Homo sapiens: one gene and its partners. The protein of the gene in region 4 purifies or fractionates together with the protein of the main gene of each other region. This does not show direct contact. Each region holds a gene or a part of one and is shown on either strand. Other genes may lie near its edges.

The links.
Region 1: the proteins of PTPN1 (region 4) and GOLIM4 purify together in Homo sapiens (affinity purification with mass spectrometry; 2 studies listed by BioGRID and IntAct, with this or other methods). This does not show direct contact.
Region 2: the proteins of PTPN1 (region 4) and KIDINS220 purify together in Homo sapiens (affinity purification with mass spectrometry; one large-scale study listed by BioGRID and IntAct). This does not show direct contact.
Region 3: the proteins of PTPN1 (region 4) and ABCD3 purify together in Homo sapiens (affinity purification with mass spectrometry; 3 studies listed by BioGRID and IntAct, with this or other methods). This does not show direct contact.
Region 5: the proteins of PTPN1 (region 4) and GDPD5 purify together in Homo sapiens (co-immunoprecipitation; one large-scale study listed by IntAct). This does not show direct contact.
Region 6: the proteins of PTPN1 (region 4) and MSN purify together in Homo sapiens (affinity purification with mass spectrometry; 2 studies listed by BioGRID and IntAct, with this or other methods). This does not show direct contact.
Region 7: the proteins of PTPN1 (region 4) and CCT8 fractionate together in Homo sapiens (co-fractionation; one large-scale study listed by BioGRID). This does not show direct contact.

The regions. Positions count from the first base shown.
Region 1 is NC_000003.12:168,033,425-168,036,924, forward strand, and holds part of GOLIM4 (Golgi integral membrane protein 4), read right to left. Parts: coding exon 3,412-3,500; intron 1-3,411. UniProt on the Homo sapiens protein: Plays a role in endosome to Golgi protein trafficking; mediates protein transport along the late endosome-bypass pathway from the early endosome to the Golgi.
Region 2 is NC_000002.12:8,831,114-8,834,613, forward strand, and holds part of KIDINS220 (kinase D-interacting substrate of 220 kDa), read right to left. Parts: intron 1-3,500. UniProt on the Homo sapiens protein: Promotes a prolonged MAP-kinase signaling by neurotrophins through activation of a Rap1-dependent mechanism. Provides a docking site for the CRKL-C3G complex, resulting in Rap1-dependent sustained ERK activation.
Region 3 is NC_000001.11:94,512,389-94,515,775, reverse strand, and holds part of ABCD3 (ATP-binding cassette sub-family D member 3), read right to left. Parts: intron 631-3,387; coding exon 574-630; intron 1-573. UniProt on the Homo sapiens protein: Broad substrate specificity ATP-dependent transporter of the ATP-binding cassette (ABC) family that catalyzes the transport of long-chain fatty acids (LCFA)-CoA, dicarboxylic acids-CoA, long-branched-chain fatty acids-CoA and bile acids from the cytosol to the peroxisome lumen for beta-oxydation.
Region 4 is NC_000020.11:50,516,883-50,520,382, reverse strand, and holds part of PTPN1 (tyrosine-protein phosphatase non-receptor type 1), read right to left. Parts: intron 1-3,500. UniProt on the Homo sapiens protein: Tyrosine-protein phosphatase which acts as a regulator of endoplasmic reticulum unfolded protein response. Mediates dephosphorylation of EIF2AK3/PERK; inactivating the protein kinase activity of EIF2AK3/PERK.
Region 5 is NC_000011.10:75,449,442-75,452,941, reverse strand, and holds part of GDPD5 (glycerophosphodiester phosphodiesterase domain-containing protein 5), read left to right. Parts: coding exon of another isoform or gene 1-126; intron 127-610; exon of another isoform or gene 611-1,609; intron 1,610-1,708; exon of another isoform or gene 1,709-2,549; intron 2,550-2,958; coding exon 2,959-3,057; intron 3,058-3,331; coding exon 3,332-3,425; intron 3,426-3,500. UniProt on the Homo sapiens protein: Glycerophosphodiester phosphodiesterase that promotes neurite formation and drives spinal motor neuron differentiation.
Region 6 is NC_000023.11:65,726,654-65,730,153, reverse strand, and holds part of MSN (moesin), read right to left. Parts: intron 2,341-3,500; coding exon 2,245-2,340; intron 717-2,244; coding exon 442-716; intron 1-441. UniProt on the Homo sapiens protein: Ezrin-radixin-moesin (ERM) family protein that connects the actin cytoskeleton to the plasma membrane and thereby regulates the structure and function of specific domains of the cell cortex.
Region 7 is NC_000021.9:29,063,649-29,067,148, forward strand, and holds part of CCT8 (T-complex protein 1 subunit theta), read right to left. Parts: intron 3,424-3,500; coding exon 3,243-3,423; intron 3,130-3,242; coding exon 3,068-3,129; intron 1,458-3,067; coding exon 1,320-1,457; intron 1-1,319. UniProt on the Homo sapiens protein: Component of the chaperonin-containing T-complex (TRiC), a molecular chaperone complex that assists the folding of actin, tubulin and other proteins upon ATP hydrolysis.

The DNA of each region.
Region 1 (3,500 bases), on a different chromosome or scaffold from region 4:
GAAACCCCGTCTCTACTAAAAAAACACAAAAAATTAGCCGGGCGTGGTGGCGGGCGCCTGTAGTCCCAGCTACGCGGGAGGCTGAGGCAGGAGAATGGCGTGAACCCGGGAGGCGGAGCTTGCAGTGAGCCGAGATTGCGCCACTGCACTCCAGCCTGGGCGACAGAGCAAGACTCCGTCTCAAAAAAAAAAAAAAAAAAAAAAAAAAAAAAAAAAAGAATGCCATTACTAATGAACATCCATGTTAGTTCAACACAGTGCCTGTTAAACAAGATACAATAAAATATTTTTAATGTATTAAAGTAGTAATTATTTGTAAACCAGCAGGACTCTTTTGTAAACATTTTTTATTGCTAATATTGAAAACCCTGAGCAGAAAAAGAAGAAATGGCTTTTTCAGAATAACCCTCCTCTAAAATTAGTTGACTCAAATCAGTTCTCCCTATAAGTTTCAGCGATCTCTATATGATCTGCACTACCTAGAAAGTGAGGAAGAAAGAGAATATAGTATATCAACAGAAACAAACGTCACTCTTTTTTTCTCTTTAACCTTCAGAAAAAAAAATCTTCTTTGGTTAGACTGCTCTCCCAAAATTGAAATAAATGTGAAATCCTATTCTTAAATTAGCAGAGATATAATTATCAAATCTGAGAAATTGGACTGTATTAATAAACTGGGGAGAAAAGTCCTTTCTCAGACATTTGAGGACAACTGGAGTTGCACATTCCACCGACATCCTCACATATCTGGCAAGTTTGACATAATACTGCCCTGGCTTTACAGAAAAATATTTCTCTAAAGAGCTCTAAGTACTTTCAAACACTTGTCATTTATCTTCACAATATCCTAGTGAGGAAGGTTAGTGCAGATAACTCCTATCTCCACCTCAGAGATGGAAAAACTGAAGATCTGAGTCACTGGAAGATTAATCCAGTAAACTGGCAGTCTGACAAGGGCAGAAAATAGAACCAACTGCCAGGCCAGTGATCTGGTCATGCTCTCTTTAGTTATTAACATAAGAGCCTGAGAAAGAATAAGAGTCCATGAAGATACTGAACCTGTCTGTTGAAGGAATACCCTGAACAGAGTGAAGAGGCTCATATATGAAGTCTACTCATATCAACTTAATTATTCCCATAACTTGGAGGAAAGTTTTCTCAGTCTTCTCTTTAATGTTAAAAACCACTTTGTGAGCAAAGGACATGAACACACACATCAAAAGAAGACACTGATATGGTTTGGCTGTGTCCCCACCAAAATCTCATCTTGAATTCCCACGTGTTGTGGGAAGAACCCGGTTAGAGGTAACTCAATCATGGGGTCAAGTCTTTCCCGTGCTGCTCTCACAATAGTGAACAAGTTTCACAAGATCTGATCGTTTTAAAAAGAGGAGTTACCCTGCACAAGCTCTCTCTCTCTGCCTGCTGCCATCCATGGAAGATGGGACTTGCTCCTCCTGGCCTTCCACCATGATTGTGAGGCTTCCCCAGCCATGTGGAATTGTAAGTCCAATTAAACTTCTTTCTTTTTTAAATCAACCAGTCTAGGGTATGTCTTTATGAGCAGCATGAAAACGGACTAACACAAACATATATGTGGCCAACAATCATACAAAAAAAAAAAAAAAACAACTCAGCATCACTGATCATTAGAGAAATGCAAATCAAAACCACAATGAGATATTATCTCACACCAGTCAGAAGAGCTATTATTAAAAAGTCAAAAATAACAGATTCTGGCGAGGTTGTGAAGAAAAAGGAATGGTTATACACTGTTGGTGGGAGTGCAGATTAGTTCAACCATCATGAAAGACAGTGTGGAGACTGCTCCAAGACCTAAAGATATAAATACCATTTGACTCAGCAAAATCCCATTACTGGGTATATGCCCAGAGGAATAGAAATCATTCCATTATAAAGACACATTCACTGCAACACTATTCACAATAGCAAAGACATGGAATCAACCTAAATGCCCACCAATTATAGACTTTGATAAAGAAAAATGTGATACATAAACACCATGGAATACTATGCAGTCATAAAAAAAGAACAAGATCATGTCCTTTGCAGGGGCATGGATGGAGCTGGGGGCCATCATCTGTAGCAAACCAACACAGGAACAGAAAGTCAAATACTACATGTTCTCACTTATAAGTGGGAGCTAAATGATGAGACACATAAGCACATAGAGGGGAACAACACACTGTACGGCCTATCAGAAGGTGGAGGGAGAGGAGCAGGAATATAGCTAATGGGTACTAGGCTAAATAGCTGGGTGATAAGATAATCTTTACAACAAACTCCCATGACACAGTTTACCTACGTAACAAACTTGCTCATGTACCCCTGAACTTAAAAGTTTAAAACAACCACTTTGTCAGAAAGATAACCATATTGCCTATTTTTTTATTACAGATGATTGGAAAAAAAAAAAACAACCTTTGTAGAAATTAGTGGTAATGGTAACTACTTCTGATGTCTCACTTATGAGATATTCTTAAGGCTTAATTTTTATAAAGAACAAGAATATAAAAAGGTGTATTATTTGACTAGCACTCATACCCGTAGGAGTGTCAAACAGGTCATTTAATTCAAATTTTGACATGCTCTGTGTAGACCTAGCACTGCTCCAAGTTAAAATATATTATTAACTTTAATATTTGAGTGGGTTGACTGTCACATAAAATCCTCATGATCATTTAACGTTCTCACCCTAACCCCCGCAAAATCCCCAACCTTGAAAAACTCAGATACTACAACTCCTTGAAGACAAATAAACCTACATGAATAAAGACAAAGCCATTAAAGCCTTTCTCAGACATACTAGCAGCGGCCAGGTGTGGTGGCTCACGCCTATAATCCCAGCACTTTGGGAAGCCAAGGCGGGCGGATCACCTGAGGTCAGGAGTTCAAGACCAGCCTGGCCAACATAGCGAAACCCTGTCTCTACTGAAAATACAAAAATTAGCCAGGCGTGGTGGCGGGCGCCTATAATCCCAGCTACTCGGGAGGCTGAGGCAGGGAGAATTGCTTGAACCCGGGAAGCGGAGGTTGCAGTGAGCTAAGATTGTGCCACTGCACTCCAGCCTGGACGACGTAGCATGACACTGTCTCAGAGAAAAAAAGAAAGAAAATACTAGCAGCAGTTCTCAAAGTTTGCTACTCAGACCAGCTAAATCAGTTAGAAATGCAAATCTTTAGGCCTCACTCCAAATTAACTAAATCAGAAACTCTGGGCCTGGGACCCAGTAATCTGTGTTTTATCACGCCCTACTGGCAATTCTGATATACTAAAATTTGAGAACTACTGCTCTCCCAGAAAAGTTGGCAATATTAAAAGCAGGTCCCCTCTTGGCAACTTGACAGAGAAAGTGACCTAACCATAGATTACCAGTTCACGCCCCTTACCTCCTGCACCTCTCGGGTTGGCTTCTCCCTTGCTGTGTTGTAACCTTGTGGAGAATGTGCCACCTGGGTCACATTTTGCTGTTCTGCTG
Region 2 (3,500 bases), on a different chromosome or scaffold from region 4:
TATTCAAGGAACTTACGCCTTCTAAGGCTTTTAAAGCCATTGTAAAGATGCAAATACACAATTCCTACGGAAAGCTTTGCTCTCCACTGAGCAGAGTGAAAACTCAGTAAGTTCAATTCTTGATTATGATGAGGGCATGCAGATTCTTCACAATCTGGCCCCATCTTACCATTCCAGCCTTATCTTTCTCCCCTCCTCAGCCCCATCCCTCCCACCCTCTACATAGTCACATCTACACCTCCAGCTCCAGCCAGACTGATCTACTTGCAGCTCCTTCACTGCCCCACACTTTGTTCTTTCCAGACCTTTGCACTTAATGCCCCCTCTGCTTAGAAAGTCCATTCTCCACGTATATATGCCTGAACAGCTCCTACCCATCCTTAAGAACATGGCTCTAACAGATCTTCTGGAAGCCTTCATTGACTGGCTGCTTACCCCAAGCTGGGCCAGGCCCTGGGCTCCTCCACACCTGTGTATACATCTAGTTGTAGACTGCTCACATCACACTCAACTCTCCTCTCCATTTTACTCACTCTCTCCACATCTCCCTTAGACTAGAAGTTCTTGCAGCAGGATCTGCTTTATATCTAGCACAATGCCTACACAACAGGAGGTGAGAGAGAAAAGCAGCCCCTGACTGTCGGGAACTGACCCGGCACACACAGCCAGACTTGGTGTTCTAACATAAATGCAACAATTTCAAAGAATGCCAACATCAAACAAGGTCACTCTGTCACCAGGATATGAAGACAAAAATAAGACTACTCTGGAATCATATCTGAACATAGACAAAAACATGAACATCACCCAAACCACAAAATGCCCAAACATCTTCCTATCGTGGCTAATATGAAGCATTGCTGCTTCTTTATCAATTACAGCTTTAGCCTTACTCCATACCTCTTGCCTTTTCGTTAAGATTTTAAATATCCAATTGCAGAATTCCCACTCCTCCTTATTCCTGAAGCACCCGAGACTGAGCAAAGCTTTGCTTCCTTGAACTCTTCCCCGAATCACCTAACATCATCTCGAATCTTCTAAGTCCTTTCTAACAACCTGTTACAGAGACCCCCAACGTTCCCTAGGACAGGCATTCTCCTTCATTGCAGGGAGTTAATAAGACCAACTTTGTTCAACTAGAGGTATGTTCCTGGCAGTCTTTGACTAGAGGGCACTGACAGTGTTTAATAAATTTCACTGAATAATTGATTATTAAATGTCATAAGATGTTTGTAAGCACATATATAAGTGCCTAGAAATTACAAAATAAAATTAGAACATTAAATCCACATCTGTTGATACACACAATAGTAAAACCAATGACACGCTGTCATGTTTAAGAGCACGTGTGTAGTATAATTCTACTTGATAAAATAAATAAGACCCCCATATATGTATCTATCCAGTGTGTACACATGAACAAAAAGAAAAGTGTGGAAGGACACACACCTGGCTGTAAAATTCGTTATCTTACCATGTAGGACTAAAAGGAGGAGATGATTAGCTTTGCCTTCACGCGTCTTTGTGCTATATTGTTTTACTTGATGTATTAAGTCTACGTTCATTTTCAATAGAAAAAAAAATGTTTCATCACAGGAGGAAAACTACAGCTTCTCATCTTTCACATTTCAGTTCAACGTTCACTTCCAAAAGCCCTTTCGGCTTAAAACGAAGCTGTCTAGTGGTCAAAAGTATGGACCCTAGAGCCAGACTACCTTGGTTTGACTCCTGACTTTACTACTGACCATTATATCATCCCAGGCTAGTTTCTTTTTTTTTTCCTTAATTTTTTTAACTAATACATAATAATTGTACATGTTTATGGGGTATGTGTAATATTTGGATTACATGCATAGGATGTGTGATGATCAAATCAGAGTATTTAGGATATCCATCACCTCAAACTTTTCTCATTTCTTGGTGCTGGGAACATCTCAAATCTTATCTTCTAGCTACTTTAAAATATACCATAAAAAATAAAATACACAATAAACTGTTAAGCATAGTACCATGCTGCTGAACACTACAGCTTACTCCTTCTACCTAACTGTATGTCTGTACTTATTAACCAGCCTCTCTTTATCACTCCCTGTCCCCTGGGGTAGTTTCTTCACCTCAGTGTCTGAGTTTCCCCATCTTCAAATAACTGCACAATTACATGCAATGGGATTAAAATAATACCTAACCCATATGAAGCCAATAAATATTAGCTGTTTTACATAATAACAGAATATGATCATTTCTTAACCACCCTTTCTTGGTTGATTCTCATAACCTGGATTGTTCTCTATTATGGAATCTTTTTTATTCCTTCATAACACTTTACTAAACTTGTAATTTACATATTTATGTTTTTTAAATTTGTCTTTTTTTTTTTTTTTTTTAGCTACACCTGCTGGAATGGGACATATTTACCTGATTAATAGCTGTCTCTCCCACTAGGATATAAGCTTTTAAAAGGAATGAATTATTTTCTTTCGTTCTATACCAAATACCCAACACTTAGCTTAATAGCTGGCCCATACAAGACACTATATTTCTTGAATAAATGGACATCAGTTGAATCTAATGTCCACAGCACTTTCTCTCTAATGGGAATATAAGGCTATACATTCTTTTGCACAATTAGCAAAAAAATTAATGTCTTGCCACCCGTTTTGAAAATGGCAGATGTAGCCAACAGCAATGTCAGAACAAAAAATTTATGTTGTAGTAAGTCCATTTTTAGAACTTGCCAATTTAATAGGCAAAATCTCTAAATGTATTCAAAATGCTTTCACCAAAAGGCCAATCGGTTAATAGACGCACCCTATAACTTTTCTCCGGTTACAGACACAGTGCATGAAAGCAACAATAGTGCCATGCTGCCCAAGGCTTACTTATTTCTTATCCTCCAGATACGACACAGTAAGTTCCTGAATGTGGCCCCTCCCATGGTTCTCTATCTCCAGCCCCTCTTCTCCTCCTCCCACTTAAGTCTCCAGCAACAATCACCCCTGTGCAGTCCCCAGAGCCTACCCTGGTGCTGACATTCCTGGGCCTGGGTGGCAGCGCTTGCCCCCTCCACACAGAGGCCTAAGTGGTCCTCCTGAATCGTGTCTTCTTACAACCATTCTGTGCTCAAAACATCCCAACGGTTGTCCTCTCACTCAAAATCCCAGATCCCTACCAGGGCCAAGGCCTTGCTTGATCTATTCCACCCCTTCTCCACCTCCCTAAGCTCAACTCTTGCTGCTCCTTCTCCTTGACTCTACTCAGGCCACAGTGACTTTCTGTACATACGTCACCTGATCAGAGCTTCTCTGACCACCGTGTATAAATGGTGTATACCATTTATACGTGTATAAAACAGCCCTCTCCCCCTCTACTATATCCCCCTTCCACAGCCCTACTTTAAAGGTCTTCTTTATAACACCTAGCATCACTCCACATACCACATACTTTGTTTTTGGTCTGCTTCCCCTAGCCAAACAAATGTAGCTCAATGAGAATAAAGACTA
Region 3 (3,387 bases), on a different chromosome or scaffold from region 4:
TTTGAGCATTTCACATTGAGTTGAAAAGAACTGACATAGTGAGAATGGCACTACTGAAGCACCAGAATAAGTAATACACGTGCACCAATGTAAGCCTCATTTGAATATCTTTGTAAATTATAGTGACTATCTAATGAATCCTACTTACTACAGTACATTGATAAACATAGCTTATGTTATTCAATCTTCCCCCTTGTAGTCCTGACCTCTATTAAAAATGTCCCTAAATTTTTTGCCATCTAATTCTTCTTAAGACTTTTTCTCCTCTGTCACTGCTGGATAAGAAAAGTTTACTTCACCATATTTGTGATAAGACTATGCAAAGTTTAGTCAGTTACTATTAACAGATAAGAGTCACTTATAAAACTGGAGAAAAACTGTTACACCATTGCTTTCAAAACTGACAACTATAATATTTAAGAAAATCCTATTTTATAAAACAAAACCACCTTTTCTCCTTAAGACATATGTTTAAGGGAATACAAACCATAAAATCTAAAACCATATTAACCTGAATTCATATTTTAAAGAAAATAAAATTTCACTGTACCATTCAATGAAAGAAATACAAACCTCATGATGTTTCCAAAGAGATTTCCTATGAGACACAGTGAAGAGAGTGATGCCAACCTAATACAAAGAAAATGATTTAGGTTTAATGAGTAACAGAGTCACAAATTAAACTAGTCCATGTACTTTAAGCTGTTAAGAGGACAGTCTTCAGTGACTAAAGTTAAAAAGCAATGTCAATGAGAAAAAATTTACAACTGGATGCAAAATGTTTATAGCAATGGAAAGTACTGGCCATCAACCACATAATAAAAACTACCAGGTACTGGCATTAAGTGTATTATTTTCTTTTGGGCAAAAAACATATCTCCTATCATGTCTCCTATTTTATTGTGAAAAATATATGAGAGGAATATGAGAAGGATAAAAATAGCCAAAGGTCAAAATCAGGAAAAATTAAATCAGTATAGCATTGTTGACAGTCAACTTGCTTTTCAAATACAGGGTCATAATCCCCTACCGTAAACTACTGTTTTGGAATGTGTCTTGGAATTCAGATTTTGAAAATGTATTATTTAACACCCCCAGAGAGTTCTGAGGCAGAATTTTATAATTAAACACATAAATGTTTCTGTAGCAACACACATGGACACTGATATTGAGACATATAGAGTTTAAATATCTTTTGTTAGCTTAGGCGAAGTTTTACCCAGTGAGCTTGCTACAAAATTATGAAAAATGTTTTAAATTTAAGCACTTTCTGGATTTCAGATTGTGAATACGTATTTATAGATCTGTACTTCAGATTTTCAAAAAAAAAAAAACATTAATAGATAATAGCTGTAGTTGCTCTAGATCAGTGGTTCTCAACCAAGGTGGGGAGGTCAGTGATATTTGTCCCTCAGGGGGACATTTGGCAATGACTGGAGGCATTTTTATTTTCACAACTGAAAGCACTACTGCCATCTAATGGGCAGAGGCCAGGGATGCTTTCTAAACATCCTCCAGTGCACAGCAACCCTCAACCCTGCCCAACTAGGAATTAACAGTGAAAAGGTCAATAGTGCCAGGACTGAGAAACCCCACTCTGGGTCACTGTTCCTCCAAGTGGATCACTCAAGGCTGGCAAATGCATGCTTAGGGCATCTGGGAAATTTCCACCATGGTTTCTTAATTTTATTTTCATTTTGATGATAATTTTTAAAAGATCATTATAAGTATATTCTAGATCATTTTTACCATGAGATTCAAGTTCCTCGGTTTGTATCTACACCTCTGATTGCCAAAGTGATATAAAATAAAACTTCTAATGTGTAATAAGTTTGGCTGCACTGTAAAAAGGTTCTTAAATTGGTTAGGAATTGCATAATAAAATAAGCATATTATCAGTATTAATAAAACATATATTTCAACCATACCACACTTTTCTGATTTTTCAGAGCTCATTTAAGATATTATTTCTCTGTTTATGATACTACAATAATTGGATTAGACATCTACTTAATGCACACATTCTTTACATGAGGATATAAAAAATATATGAAGTATATAAGTCAAAATAAAAAGCAAAATGCAAAATAATGAAATTTGAACCTCAGATTCTATCTTTCCTTAATTAAATCCCAAACCACTGGTTTAGTTTCATCTAAACGGTATCATAGGTCTCTTTAATGTTGTAAATTTGAAACTGTATTTAAGTTTTGTCTGTATTTAATGTATTTAATGTGTAAGTTTATATTAGTTTTGTAGCTGTAAAAGAGCTCTAAGCTTAAGGAATTCACACCTCATCATGTTTATACATGTTTAAGTGGTATCACAGTAATTTAAATTATCAATGAGGCCCCATATGAATTTTCTTTTAAATGGAACTGATGTTTTATAGAATTTATACAGTCTTATGTGGGGACTTCAAGCCTATAGCTAGAGCATAAGAGGAAATCACGTGGTCAAAATTACCAGCAAAGAGCTGCTATGTCATTGAATCAACTGCAGACTACATGGTTTTATGTACATGAGAATACCATAAACATCTCTAATACCTATATATTTGAAAACCAACATGAACAAATGTATAATTATATATTACCAAAGCAAATTCAAGAATAGAAAATAAATCATTAACAAGATAAAATCAGTAGTTAAAATCTTTCTACAAAGAATAGCAAATTCTTTCATCATCACGCCAGTGCTTCTCAAACTTTAATGCGCATTTGAATCATCTTAGAATTTTGGTAAAATGCAGATTCTGATTTAGCAGGGCTTGAAATTCTGCATTTCTAACAAACCCCTAGGTGACACTGCTGCTGCTGATCATGAACACACTTGGAATAGTAGGAATTCATAATATATATACTCAATATGACCTTTTTTATTTATTGAGAACTCCCAAAGAACACATACAAAATGTTAAAAATCCTCATCTACCTCATTTACTTATATAGAAACTATAAAACAGCTAGGATATACTACATTTGTTCCAAAATTTAACCATAGTATAGATGTTGGTAACAATTTCTCAAAGAAAGAAAACTGATACTATTGAATAATTACTTAAAGAATGGAACCAATAAAGATAGCCTCAGACTTAGCTACTAAAAGCAGCTTTGGTAAAATATTGCTCAGGCTAGAAAATAAAACGGATAAATTAAAAATTGCCAAATAATTATTGTTGAGTTTTATTCATAAAAAAACTCTAATGTTTAGATAAAGTTAATGGAAAAATTAAGAAAAGGTCAGTTTATTAACTCTAAGTAATGAGGTAAAGTGAAATAGATTTAAATACGTTGTTTTATATAAATGAGGTATCTTTTATATCTTTTATCTTTTATATCTCATTTATATAAAACAACATATTTAAATATATTTCCCATATATAAA
Region 4 (3,500 bases):
TTTTTTTTTTTGAGACAGAGTTTCACTCTTGTCCCCCAGGCTGTAGTGCAATGGTATGATCTCGGCTCAATGCAACCTCCGCCTCCCAGATTCAAGCGATTCTCCTGCCTCAGCCTCCTGAGTAGCTGGGATTACAGGCATGTACCACCACGCTCGGCTAATTTTGTATTTTTAGTAGAGACAGGGTTTCACCATGTTGGTCAGGCTGGTCCTGAACTCCGGACCTCAAGTGATCCACCCACCTCGGCCTCCCAAAGTGCTGGGATTACAGGCGTGAGCCACCATGCCCGGCCGGAATCAAAGATTTTTAAATACTGTCACTATGCTTCCAACTGTCCAACTTCCAAAGTACTGAGAAAATATTTTTTGAAATGTAGCCAAGTATAGAATATAGACTGTGTCCTACATTCAAAAGTTGTCTTTCTAGAAAGCATGTTTTAATGGCAAAGGATACAAAGCAAGCTGTAAAAAGAGACTAAAATTAGCTCAAACCACAAATAACCTAACATACTTATCACTTCCTTATGATCAACCTACAAAAATCAAACTTTAAAGGCACTTACAAAACTAAAGGTGGGAGGCCAACTGCACCCTTTAACTTCGCTATACCTTTCCTCCTTCTAACATGGACCCTGGCACATAAACACTGCCAAACGATGACACTGTGTTAACGTGAAGGCAAGCACCAGGGAAACTACGGGAGCACAGTTTTGCCCTGTAAATAAAACAGCATGTACCATGCAGTTCTTAAGTGGTTAGAAGGGTAACTACCTCCTCAAACTGAAGATGGGAAATGCAGATGAAGGCCCACACCCATCTTCAGCTGCATTTCACAGACAGCTAAGGACATACCACGCTCCCACTTCAAACAAAATATTCTTCCATCTTCTAAAGCCATCTATTTCCTACTTTCAAAAGCAACATCTTCCAAATCTATTGGGAAACCAAAAGTTTGTTACCATTCGAGTAGTGGAACAAGTTGCAAAATGAGGTTTAGTTGACAAATATGTATTCATGGGTAAAAAAAAGGCACTGGGTTTGTTAAACTACATCTACTTTTTCAGTGATTCTCTCTCTGAGTGTATTAACTATGTCTGATAAGTTTTGTGATAAATTTTTTGGAGAAACTTCAAGCTCACAAAGGATGAAAACAAGTGGTTAAGGATGAGTACAGAACCTACCAATACCACTGTGCACACTCCAATACTGTTACTCAAACTTTCAAAAGCATTTTCATTAGCAGGTAGAGAAATAGGGGCAAGTAGCAGACCTGGGTAGTTATTTGTGGTGTGAACAGACCAAACAAAATACTGATAATGGCACTAATATTCCTAAGATTTATTCAAGAAAAACTGTCAGTAAGACATGAAGGAATATTTAGAAATGCTCAGAAATGACACCATGATAGGTACATAAAGGGCCCATTGAAACCCAGCATTCTAGGGATGTGGATTCTCAAGGAATATTCAAGAGCAACCTTTAGGTGTGGCTAAACCAGGTTGTATTCTGGGGACTGCTCCAAAAATTTGGTTTTATGCTTGTATAAACCTGATGTAGCTTAATGTAACTTTCTGATCTTGGCCCCATTCTGCCTCACCCCACCTCGGAGCATGATCCTTAACACTATGGCAACAGGGAGGTGGCGTCCAGGTAGTAGAGAACAATAAGAGTAATGCTCTTAATTCAAAAGTGCTGTCAAGATACAGTTCAGTTCAGAGTAAAAACAACAAAGCAAAACAATGACAACAACAACAACAAACCAAAAAATGACATATTCTCTCCCTGCCCCGAAAAAAAAATTCACTGGGTACCTTCTTAGAGGCCTCTTTTCTCTGTGCAAAAGTTAGCCACAAAAATATTTATGACTCAGTGAAGGCGTATTTTCCCTTTATCCTTACAGAAGCAAACTAAGCCCTGACTATTTGAAAAGTGAAACAGTAGTTAACAGCGACAAATGTTCAAACATCAAGGAGAGTTAAAGCTAATTTACCATGTTATGCTAAATGCAGTTTGCTTATTTGTTCTCTTGAGTGAAGTTATATTCAGAAGTGACTTCATCCTTAGACATTTTTAAGTAACTCACGTTCTTAAGAGAACTCTATTTGGAATAATTACTTGATGTTCACTTTCCTGTAAGAAATTCGCAATAGTGTACAATCCTGTAACCGGGGCCCATCTGGATAAAAATTAGCTAAGCTGTTTGCTGTAATGTAACGTAGTGACTTTTAAGTAAGATTCTGCAAAAGGAAGAGAAGTGCCAATAAAAGATCCATTAAGAAAGGAAAAAAGTCGAAAAACGTTTCTTAACAGAGACAAGGGAAGAGTTTTCCTTTTCTAATCACTAAGAAATTTTTAAAAATTATTTTGAAAGCCTAGTTTTGCTATGCTCATCTTATCTTTGCAAGTGATGTTGCTCACCCACAAAAGCCACAAACACAGCCGAGGCTTCCTTCTTCATCTGTAAAAGTAAAATATACCTCAGTCTCTAGGAAGAAACATCTGAAAAGTAAAGAGAAGGAGACAGGGACACAAGCCTACTTGGGACCCAAAACTTTACTTCAAGTGGTTAATCCTCAAGAAGGATTTAGAATTTCCCAGCACTAGATTCAGAGTAGTAAAGAATACGTTTATTTCCCAGAGAAAATGCAGACCTTAAGTGTCCCTTTGCCATGTTTACTCTGAGTCCATATTACAGAGCTGACTTCAGAGCACTAATTCTATCTAATTACCATAGGGTATCCATAAAACCTTACTGCCTTAGTAAAACCATAAGCACTCAGTAAATCGAACGATGTCATACGTTTTTCTCTTAAAAAAAGGGCTGGGCCGGGCACAGTGGCTCACACCTGTAATCCCAACACTTTGGGAGCCTGAGGCAGACAGATGGCTTAAGCCCAGGAGTTCAAGACCAGCCTGGGCAACACAGCAAAATCCCATCTCTACTCCAAAAAAATACAAAAATTAGCTGGGCGTGATGGCACATGCCTGTAGTCTCAGCTACTTGGGAGCCTGAGGTGGGAGGATCACTTGAGCCCAGGAGGTGGAGGTTGCAGTGAGCCAAGATTGTGCCACTGCACTCCAGCCTGGACGACACAGCAAGACCCCATCTCAAAAAAAATATTAAAAAAATAAACTTTAAAAGGACTGAAAATCATTTATAAGTACTTGGTATTATTTTATTTGTAGTAGTGTGACTTGTACCAAAGCCCAGAGATCAATAGATTTGATGGCTACAGTTTTCTTTGGCTGTTTCAGGGCAGGAGGGAATCTTCCATGTGAAATGGTCTTATTTTCAGTTTTCATACAATCAAAATTTACAAGCTGTCAGCAAGATACTCATGATTATGTCAAGCTGCTTTGAAAAAGGAGAGGGCAGCAGCTATTAAACTCTAAAGACCATTTCTACACAAAGTAAAGCATTATTTCTAAAATGCTGGAGACTTAGGTACTTTCTTCTCAAATATGGCAGATGTGTAAACTATCATATTATTCAAATGAAA
Region 5 (3,500 bases), on a different chromosome or scaffold from region 4:
TGTCCTCGCCTGACTCCCCTGCCTCAGTGGCAGCAGCCCCCAGCCCAGGACCTGCACAGAGGAGGCGTCTGTCAGCGACCCAACCTGAGCCCCAGAGAGGAGCACTGGGTACCACACAGCCCCAAGGCAAGTTACTGGCTGGGCTGGGGCTGGGGCTTCTGCCTCCTACCAAGGCTCCATCAGCCTCTACCTGCCATCTGCTATGTCTACTTCATCACCTCTCCTGGTGAATTCAGACTTCTCTCCATGCACTGGCCCCAGCTTTATGGTTTTTCCTGGTGTCCAGCCTCTGTCCCTCCAGCAGCAGCTTAAGGAAGGCGCATTCACTGAGCACCTCCTGTGTGTGCCAGGCACTGCGTTCACCATAACAGCAGTAACCATCCTTTATTGGGTGCTGACCACATGTGTCAGGCACCTTTCACTCAGAATTTCACAGTCATTTCACTCCTCACAATAATCCTGTTCCCATATCATGCTCACTTTTTAAAATGATATCACTGAGATTTAGTAAGCATTTTCTTCTGGCCAGCCGTTGTACTAAGCATTTCACTTGCATTTCCTCACTGATCTTCCCCAACCCCCTTCCAGGTAGGTACTCACTATCCCTATTTCACAGCTCTGGAAAGGTCCCTGGAGAGGATGTGGAAAGATCCCCAGTAGGTAGCAGAGCCAGGATTCGACTGAAGACCGTGATTCAAGTGAGGCTCTTAACCCTGGGCCAGCTGTCTGCCATTTGGACTGCAAAACCCAGAGGCCAGATACCCCTAAGAGGCCAGCTGTTGCACCTCTGCAAGGCGGGGTTCCACCTCCTCTCGGGTCCCGGCACCTAGGCCAGACTCATCGAATGAATGAAAGACTCTGTTGTATCCCCTGTACCCACCATGGCTATCACAAGCCACAGTCCCATGAAGACAGAGAACCCAAGGCCACTTTCTCAGAGGAGGACGGTGATCTGTCTCTGGGCCTCTAGGGTGGGATTCATCCTTCTCAGTCAGATTTCAGGAGCGATGGTGGTTGCGTTTTTGGGTGTCAGTGCTATTGCTATAACTTAATGATGCAAGGTAGGGAAGTCCCACAGACACTGAACATGCAGTGATGCTGCTGAGTGTGTTGATTAGCACCAAAGCAACTGTGGAACTCAGAGATAATAACATTTTTAATTGTATTAGGGTTTGGGGAATCAGTTTTATTGCAAGTCGTTTCCATTAATAGGTATTGTGATGAGATGCTCCTGGAAACCATCCTTAACTCACTGTGTGCAGGGCCACCTCCCACGATGGCCACAAGGGGGAGCTGCGCGCCGGGGGCAGCCGGGAGAAGGGGCCTGAGTGCCGAGGGCGGGGTTCTCAGGGGTTCGGAGGCGCAGCTGGGCCTCCCAGAGACTGCGCAGCCTCTCTGACACCAGCGTGCTGTCTGTCCGAGAAAGCGCACACCCCCTTACCCCCTGAGATGGGCAGAAGGTGTTCGTTTCTGGTTCTGCCCCTTCAAAGCTCCGTGACCCAGCCAGCTGTTCCTCTCCCCGAACCTCGCTTCCCGTGTGTGAGATGAGGATGCTCGTGCCTCCGCGGAACCAACCTGGGGACCACGCGAAGCGCCCCCACAGGCCCAGGCACGCCCATGCCTCTTCCCGCCCCGAGCCCCCATGTCACAGCCCTTCCAGCTCCTCACCTGCCTCGCTCAGGTCTCTTGGGGGAACATTTGTTTCCAGGCTGATGGGCTGGAATGAAAAGCCTCCAAAGGGAAACTTCATCCCAGGCGAGACTCAGCATTCCCCGCCGGCGAGTGAAGGTCCCTGGGTAGGGAGCGGAGATGCTGGCCACCGCCCCACCCTCATCGTCTAGAAATGCCACTGTCCCTGCTCGGCATCAGAGGGCCCTGGCCGCTGCTGCCTCTGGGAAAGGTTGCCTCGGGAGAAAGGGGGTGAAGGCCCTGCCAGCAGCTAGAACGGCTCCAGGGAGGCAGGGCGGCCGGCAGTGCTGTGGGAGAAGGACAGGCCTTTGGAGGGAGATGGGAGACGAGTCTGGAGAAACTAGGGGGACGGAGGTGGCGGCTTTGACTGACCCTTCCAGAGACTGGGATCTGCGGGAGGCTTTGGAGGAGAGCCACAACCTGGGCTTCGGGGAGGCACGCCTGGGGGTGTGGAGGGGGGTGGGTGGAGTGAGATCCACGGCTAGGGGCGAGGGGCTGGGGGCCGAGGAGCCGAAAACCTCTGCCGAGCTTCACGTGGTTAAAGATTTCAGGTCTTACCTGTCACCAGAGATCTCTGTCCCGTAGAGGTGCCACCTCATCCTCCATGAGAGCTGTGCTTTGCTTTCTTCTGGAGGCTGCAAGGAGGATGGCCCCCATCACGGCGGACCTAGATGCTGGGAGTCCGGGAGAGGGCAGGCCGTGGAGATGGGGCAGGTGGCGATGTGTTTCACCACCCACTCCCGCCTGAAGTGCCACTGTGAGCCCAGCCCAGGGTGCCAGGCTGGGCTGCACTCCAGGCTCCTGCAGCAGACCCAGTTCCTCAGCCTCCTTCCCCTGAGGCCTGGGCATGGCCTGGACAAGTGGGTTTCCTCCTCTGCTGTGCCATGCTGAGGTGGCAGGGAGGCTGGGCGGGACCTTGGATGTGACTAACCTGCCAGGCCCAGGGAGGTCCCCCTTACTGAATGTCCTCCCTCCTCACAGTTCCCTCCTCCTCCTGTCCCCATCCTCCCTTCCATTTCTCGCTGTCCCTTCCTCGCTGGGTCTGCCGGCCTCCTGCTGCCTCCTCCTGCCTCAGTCTCTCCCTGCCGTGTCTATCTGCCGGCCTCTAGTTTCCTGGCAGCCCATGCCTGTCTCTTTCCTCCCTCCCCTCTGCCCTGCTCCATCGGCCTCTCCTGCCCTCTCTGTCTCTCCCTCTGGCTCCTCTCTCAGACACACTGGGAACCCTCCCACCCGCTCTGAGCCTCTGTCCGGTGACTCTTCCCCCTCCAGATCGGGCTGGTGGTCATCCTGGCTTCCACGGTGGTGGCCATGTCGGCCGTGGCCCAGCTGTGGGAGGACGAGTGGGAGGTGCTGCTGATCTCCCTGCAGGTGAGTGAGGAGGGTCCCCCAGGACCCTCACAACAAGAGCCTTTCTGTCACTTCCCTTTCTCCAGACCAAGGCCCAAAGAAGGGCAGGGAGGCGCCCAGGGTCACAGAGCAGGTCAGAACTAGGGAGGACACCAGGGTCCTGAGGCTCCCAGTGTCCCCAGTTGGCAGATGGAGACAGGGTTGCCTGCCTCATAGGTAGAAGTAGGAGGCTGGTGACACAGGGTCTGGGCAGAGCTGGGCGTTACTGGTCTCCCTTCCCTCTCCCTGCAAACAGGGCACAGCGCCATTCCTGCATGTGGGGGCTGTGGCAGCAGTCACCATGCTCTCCTGGATCGTGGCAGGACAGTTCGCCCGCGCAGAGCGGACCTGTGAGTAGAACTGTGAAGGGCCTGCCCCTCCAATCCCTGCAGGTGCCAAGACCAGCTGGTGCTGCCCCGACCTGG
Region 6 (3,500 bases), on a different chromosome or scaffold from region 4:
GGAAAGCTCTGTACACTAGCTGTCAATATTAAAAGACTATTTGAGCTCCCCATGTCCTCGGTTTGCTTATTTCTCTCTCTCCCCTGTGAACTTCTGATATAAGAGATCTAAATCAGTAAAAAGAACTGAGAAAATGGAACCAGGGATGGGTGAAAGAAATTACTCAATCTCTGGTTCTATATAAGCACCTGCCTCCAGGGTAATAAAGTTCTGTAACCAGGTAGACAGAGGGAAAACAAAAAGGCTTTTTATTTGGAAAGCCAGAAAAACAACAACAGAGTCTGACACTATATGCAAATGTCTCTTGAGCAGCATAACACAGTCTTCAGACAGACCCCAATGGAGAAGAACAGATCTGGCATCCCTGTGAGGCAGGGATTGGTCAGCTGTGGGCTGCAGCCCCTTATGGCCAAGGCAAAGGAGGGCAGGGAACCACCTCACCTCTGCGGGAGCAACTTGTCTCCGGCCAGGTAGCCAGACTTATGCACTTCCTTATTGAAGTCGCCATACTTAGACTGGACAGCATACGAGGCCAGCAGCACAGCGGTCTCAGGCGGGCAGTAAATATCATCATTGAGAATGCCCTCTTTCACTTGCAGAAAGAACAGGCGCTGAGTGATGTCCTGAATCAATTCCTCGGACACATCCTCAGGGTAGAACTTGGCACGGAACTTAAAGAGCAGGGGGCTTTCCTTCCGCACATCCTGGGCAGTCACCTGGGAAGAGTAAGGGTTATGGACTCTCAAAAAATAGGTTTTAAGGGTAATGGAGTGGCTGTAGGGTGGGGAGAAAACACTGAAAGATCATCAATTTGCATAATCTTAGACAGCTGGGTGGCAACTCCCCTGGTAATTAAGAAAAATAATACATTACTTTCACTGGGGACTGAATCCCATGTCTGTAATCACTTTCTGTTGGGAATTTCTTCCTGAAATTACCTTAATACCGACTGATGATCAGAAATCTTCAAACCACTTTTATCTGACTATATCCAACTATCCCCAAATTCTGATAGTAGGCATAAGCTCTTCTTTTAAGCTCGTCTTATAAGTCTCCTCCAACTTCATAAATTAGCAAAGTAAGGACTAGGATATATGTCTGAGGACTGAGAACTGGCTAAACAAGAGCACAAATTAGACCATTTTTTAAAGCCTGAAATGGAATACTAGTGGCTCCACACTTGTCCAGCAAAAGACTCAACTCTTTAGGAAAACAAGACTCTACCAGCAGAAGGTGGGGTACCTACTCCCTAGACACAATCAGAGAAGCAAACTGCAGGACAGTATGGAGACTTCTAAGGACAAGGCCAGCCAGTTTGAGGATACGAAGATGGAAGGCTGCCAGGTTCCCGTGAAGATGCTGCTTGGGGTGGAGAGCTTGCATGGACTCAAACCATCCCATTTGGGGTCCAACTGAGGTAAAAGATCAAGAAAGAGGGAAACATCTATATGGGGTTCAGACATTAGTTGACTGCTGGAGAAGGTGCAGCATAAGACTGTAAGATCTTTCAGATTTTTTTTTTTCTAGTTCAAGAATCTGTGGCTCTTTTTAACAAATCCCCAGCCAAGCTCAGTAGCTCATGCCTGTAATCCCAGCACTTTGGGAGGCCGAGGCGGGCGGATCACAAGGTCAGGAGATCGAGACCATCCTGGCTAAAACGGTGAAACCCCGTCTCTACTAAAAATACAAAAAATTAGCCGGGCGTGGTGGCAGGCACCTGTAATCCCAGCTACTCGAGAGGCTGAAGCAGGAGAATGGCGTGAACCCAGGAGGCGGAGCTTGCAGTGAGCCGAGATGGCACCACTGCACTCCAGCCTGGGCGAGAGTGCGAGACTCCGTCAAAAACAAAACAAAACAAAAACAAACAAACAAAAAAAACACAAATCCCCTAAAGCCATTGAGTTTGGAGAGATGAAGGGGATACCAATCCTCTCTTGAAAAGCCACTAATGGATTTGATCCAAAACAAGTCAAAGTTCAAGCTAGTGTTCCCATTAGAAAGAAAAGAGTCTCTTCTTCTTTGAATGCTGGCCATTGTCGCTGTTAGAAGTCAAAGTAGAGACAGAGCAAGAGCTTTGCCTTGCTTGTGTCCTCGGTCCTTATTCTGATCCAAGTGGTCAACAGACCACCCAGTCACAAACACAGCCCTAGGTATCCAGGATTTGCCAACTAGCACATGGTACCCTCCCAGGAATGTTCTGGAAAAGAAAAGAATTCTAAATCCAACAGAGGAATAAGCAGTTACCTTCTTATTGAGTTTCAGCCAGGTGGAGAAACCTTTAGTGTCCTGGTACTGCAGACCAAAGAACCAAACTTCCCTCAAGCCAATAGTTTTCACCACCTAGAAGAGAAAACCAAAACAACCAACCATTGATTGAATACTTCCTCTGTGTGAGGCACAGAGGACACAAAGTTTGAAGTCAATATTATATCTGCCCTTAAAGGGTTTAAGGTGCTCAGCATCTGGCAAGAAAATATACTTGAGCAGCAATCAAGAACTGATGTCGGCATCTCTCTGCACAAAGTACTGCTGAGGCAGGAAAGGGATCTATTACTTATGAGCACTGACACATACCAAGAACCTTACATCCATCATCTCCTTTAATTTTCATAATACCCCTATGCTAGACTTACAATTAGGCCCATTTTATAGATATCAAAAATGAGGTTCAAATAAATGAAATAACTTGCCCAAGTTTCAGGTTGTGAGTGACAGAATTAGGGTTCAAACCAGGTCTGTTTGACTCCAAATCCATGCATATCCAGTGATTTCTGCCACCTCCTCCTTCCCTCTACAATGTCACACCACTTCCCACTTCCATGATGGATTAAAGGCTGAAGGTGGAGATTGTTGGATTAACTCCTGTATCTTGTTCTCTTGGGCCACTCCCATATATTGTCCTTCATCCTTAGCAACTGGGGGTAATACCCACACCCTTAAGACTGAGTTCCATTTACAATACCCCAAATAAAGAATGTTTGAGAAGATAAAACGGGGATTGTGAAGGACTCTGAAGCCATGCTGTGCCTGGGTTCTGAGAGGATTTTTTCCAACCCTGATCAGAGCCAAGTCATGATTCCTCTTACACAGGTTTAGGGTGGAAATGAGGGTAGAAATAGGGTAAGTACCTCAGTGTAGCAGCTGAGGTGCCCCCTGTTGTCCTGAGCCTCCTGGCTGAACAGTGGGCAGGAAAAGGAGGCTTGCCAAGAGAACACAGATGAGCTCTGTTCTCTAGTCCCTGACATTAGCATGTTAATAGTCTGGCCCTCAGCTCAACCCCAGCATACCCACCACTGTCGATGGCAGCAGTGAAGCTGAGCCACATCCTAATGAGGTCAGGCTGGCCTTAGGCAGTCTTTTTTATTTTGTTTTTTGGGAGAAGGATGCAAGTGGAGGGTAAGGGTAAGGTGAGAAAGAATCATAGAAATATACCTGGAGATGGAAGCAGGGAACAAGGACCCAGTTTTGCTGATGTCCTTCCCTTATGAACAAATTAATAT
Region 7 (3,500 bases), on a different chromosome or scaffold from region 4:
GCATATATTATGAAGCAGCAGAATACTGTATGTGTGAAATAGAAACTCAGCTTGCTTCTAGAACCCCCTGTCAAAACAGATGCATCTGCTTTTGATAAGTACTTAGGTGGAAAAGTACTTTTATCTATTTATTTATTTTGAGACAGAGTCTCACTCTGTCACCATGCTGGAGTGCAGGCAGGATCTCGGCTCACCGCAACCTCTGACTCCCTGGTTCAAGCGATTCTCCTGCCTCAGCCTCCCAAGTAGCTGGGATTACAGGCAAGCGCCACCACGCCCAGCTAATTTTTGCATTTTTAGTAGAGACGGGGTTTCACCATGTTGGCCAGGCTGGTCTTGAACTCCTGACCTCGTGATTTGCCTGCCTTGGCCTATGCTGGGATTACAGGCGTGAGATACCGTGCCCGGCCGAGAAGTGCTTTTATTTTAAATATGTCAGGTAGGTAGGTGTCCTGGTGTTTGTCTTTTGACAAAGGCTAACTAGTGTTCCCAATACAACATTGTGGTTCTCAAACTTTTTCTAAAATGTGGACTAGGCCGGGCGCGGTGGCTCATGCCTGTAATCCTAGCACTCTGGGAGGCCAAGGCGGGTGGATCACTTGCAGTCAGGAGTTGGAGACCAGTCTGGCCAACATGGTGAAACTTTGTCTCTATTAAAAATACAAAAATTAGCCAGAGATCACTTGAACCCAGGAGGCGGAGGTTGCAGGGAGCCAAGATTGTACCACTGGACTCAAGCCTGGGTGACAAAGCAAGACTCTAAAAAAAAAAAAAAAAAAAAAAAAAAAGAATAAAATACAATAAAATAAAATATGGACCAAATGACCAGACCCCCCTCATGCTACAAAATTTTAAAACTATCAACAACTTGGATTTCAAGAATTCTAGAGATGAAGTCAGCCACTATTGACTATAAACACAAACTTCAAACTTTCTAACATGTATTTTTAGAAACATACTTACCATTTTCAAATTACATTAGCTTATCTTGTTTTAGGATGCTACAGAATGTCAACTTTATTTTCGTGAAGAGCACACAAAATACTCACATTCTCATATTCTTTCACTTGCTGAATGTATAAGCTCTACTAGAAGGGCTGTGTGTCAGATTATAAATAATACGGCCACCATCTTTATATTTCCAGTTTAATGTTCAGTAGTTGAATTAGATATTTGAAGACTATAAATCTGGCATAAAAAAATAGGTAAGATCCTGCAATGTTCAGTTTTTTAAGAAGTACTTACTGGTTTAAGAGCTAACTCAAACAATCTGAAAGTGCAACCCCAATTATTACTTTTAAGGTTTGAAGTCTACATACCTTAGTTTCTGTTATCATGCCATCAAAAGGACAAGAGTACACTGCTATTTTTGCATCTTTGACAGATGTTACATCACCTTCGGTTTCCTTCTTAAAAACCATGCCATGCAATACTGAAGAGGAACTGATACCAGAGCCCTAAGGAATTGAATACCAAACTCATCAGCAATCTCCTGAAAATAACATTACGGTCAAACTGTTGATTCTCCATATACCAAAAATATCCCTTTCTAAAATAAAGTCATAAACCAAGGCAGTGACTCCTGGGATAAGGGGTGGAGTGGTGGACATACAGCACACCCTTCTGCTCGAGGCAGAAATCACTGAGGGAATGAGCTACTTTTAGGGAGGGGAGGTCCTTCCATGTACTGGGAAGAACCAAAGGCAGAGAACTGGTCTTAGCCATTCAGTTACCTAGTACTTGGTGCCAATATACCAGCCACAGCTGTCAGTACTGCAAATACAACACAGAACAAAGCAAAGATTCTGTTCTCACAAGGTTGCATTTAATGGGAAAAGCTGGCAGTACGTGGAGGGAGACAGCAAACATAGAACACGTGAGTATCTTCAGGGAAAGCACATGTACTTATGTTATGCTAAATTCACATTAACAATCAGAATGCCAATGTGCAAAACCAAAACCATTCCACTGATAGGTTTTACTCTATCAAGCACATTTTATCAAAAATATACTTTAATATTTCAATACTAACATTAAAGTGTGAATTCTATTATTGAAGAGGAATAGGACGATTTCCACCCCACTCAAAACTGTCTTATAAGCTTATTATAATTCAGAGTATTATGAAGAACACAAAAAAATTAGTATTTTGCGCTGGGCGCGGTGGCTCACACCTGTAATCTCAGCACTTTGGGAGGCCAAGGTGGGCAGATCATGAGGTCAGGAGTTCGAGACCAGCCTGGCCAACATGGTGAAACCCTGCCTCTACTAAAAAAATACAAAAATTAGCTGGACATGGTGGCATGCACCTGTAATCCAGCTACTTGGGAGGTTGAGGCAGGAAAACCACTTGAACCTGGGAGGTGGAGGTTGCAGTGAGCCGAGGTCGAGGCACTGCACTCCAACCTGGGCAACAGAGCCAGACTCCATCTCAAAAAAAAAAAAAAAAAAAATTTAGTATTTTGTTTATACATTATTCTTAAACCCACAAGACATCACAGAAAATGACTTTATAAGGAGATAATATGTCAATATCCTTTTAAACTTAAATAGGTAGTAGTATTATTACAACTTAGCAACATCAAAATGTTACAAAATAATGCCTCAAAGGCCAGGCACGGTGGTTCACGCCTGTTAATCCCAGCACTTTGGGAGGCCAAGGCAGGTGGATCACCTGAGGTCGGGAGTTCGAGACCAGCCTGACCAACACGGAGAAACCCCATCTCTACTAAAAATACAAAATTAGCCGGGTGTGGTGGCGCATGCCTGTAATCCCAGCTACTCGGGAGGCTGGGACTGGAGAATCACTTGAACCGGGAGGCGGAGGTTGCGGTGAGCCGAGGTCATGTCATTGCACTCCAACCTGGGCAACAAGAGCGAGACTCCGTCTCAAAAATAAATAAGTACATAAATAAAAATAATGCCTCAAAAAAAGTCCTAAGTGTTCAAATCATGAAGTAACATTTAGGTTTAGATGAACACATTTTTTTTTTTTTGCACAAAAAAACAAAAAAAGCACACAAAAAAACTGACCTAGATATGTAGCATTAATGCATTTTCTACTTACCAGAATTTTACAAACTCTGATGTTATCAACATTGAAATGGCCGGAATCAGGAAAAATAGATACTGTTAAGAAAATGAGACATATCAAAAGATTATTTTGGGACAACAGAGAAAGTATCTAGTCATGTTAAAGGTATTTTTATTTTGGATCTTTTCATTTACTGATATTTACTTACCGCATGCCTGAGCAATAAGCTTGGCCAGAAATACTTCATTACCATATTGTTTACTCATTATGGAGGTACGAAGTAGAGATGAGACTTCATCAATATCTCGAAGGTTTTTTGCAGAACAACATACCAAATTAGGAAGAATCTCATGAGCTTTTCTGCAGGCTATTTCATAACCTTCTATGACCTAAAACATAAACAACATTTCCTATTCTGACATGACTTAAAGTAGCTTATTTTGGTAACCCAATGCATATGGATGTT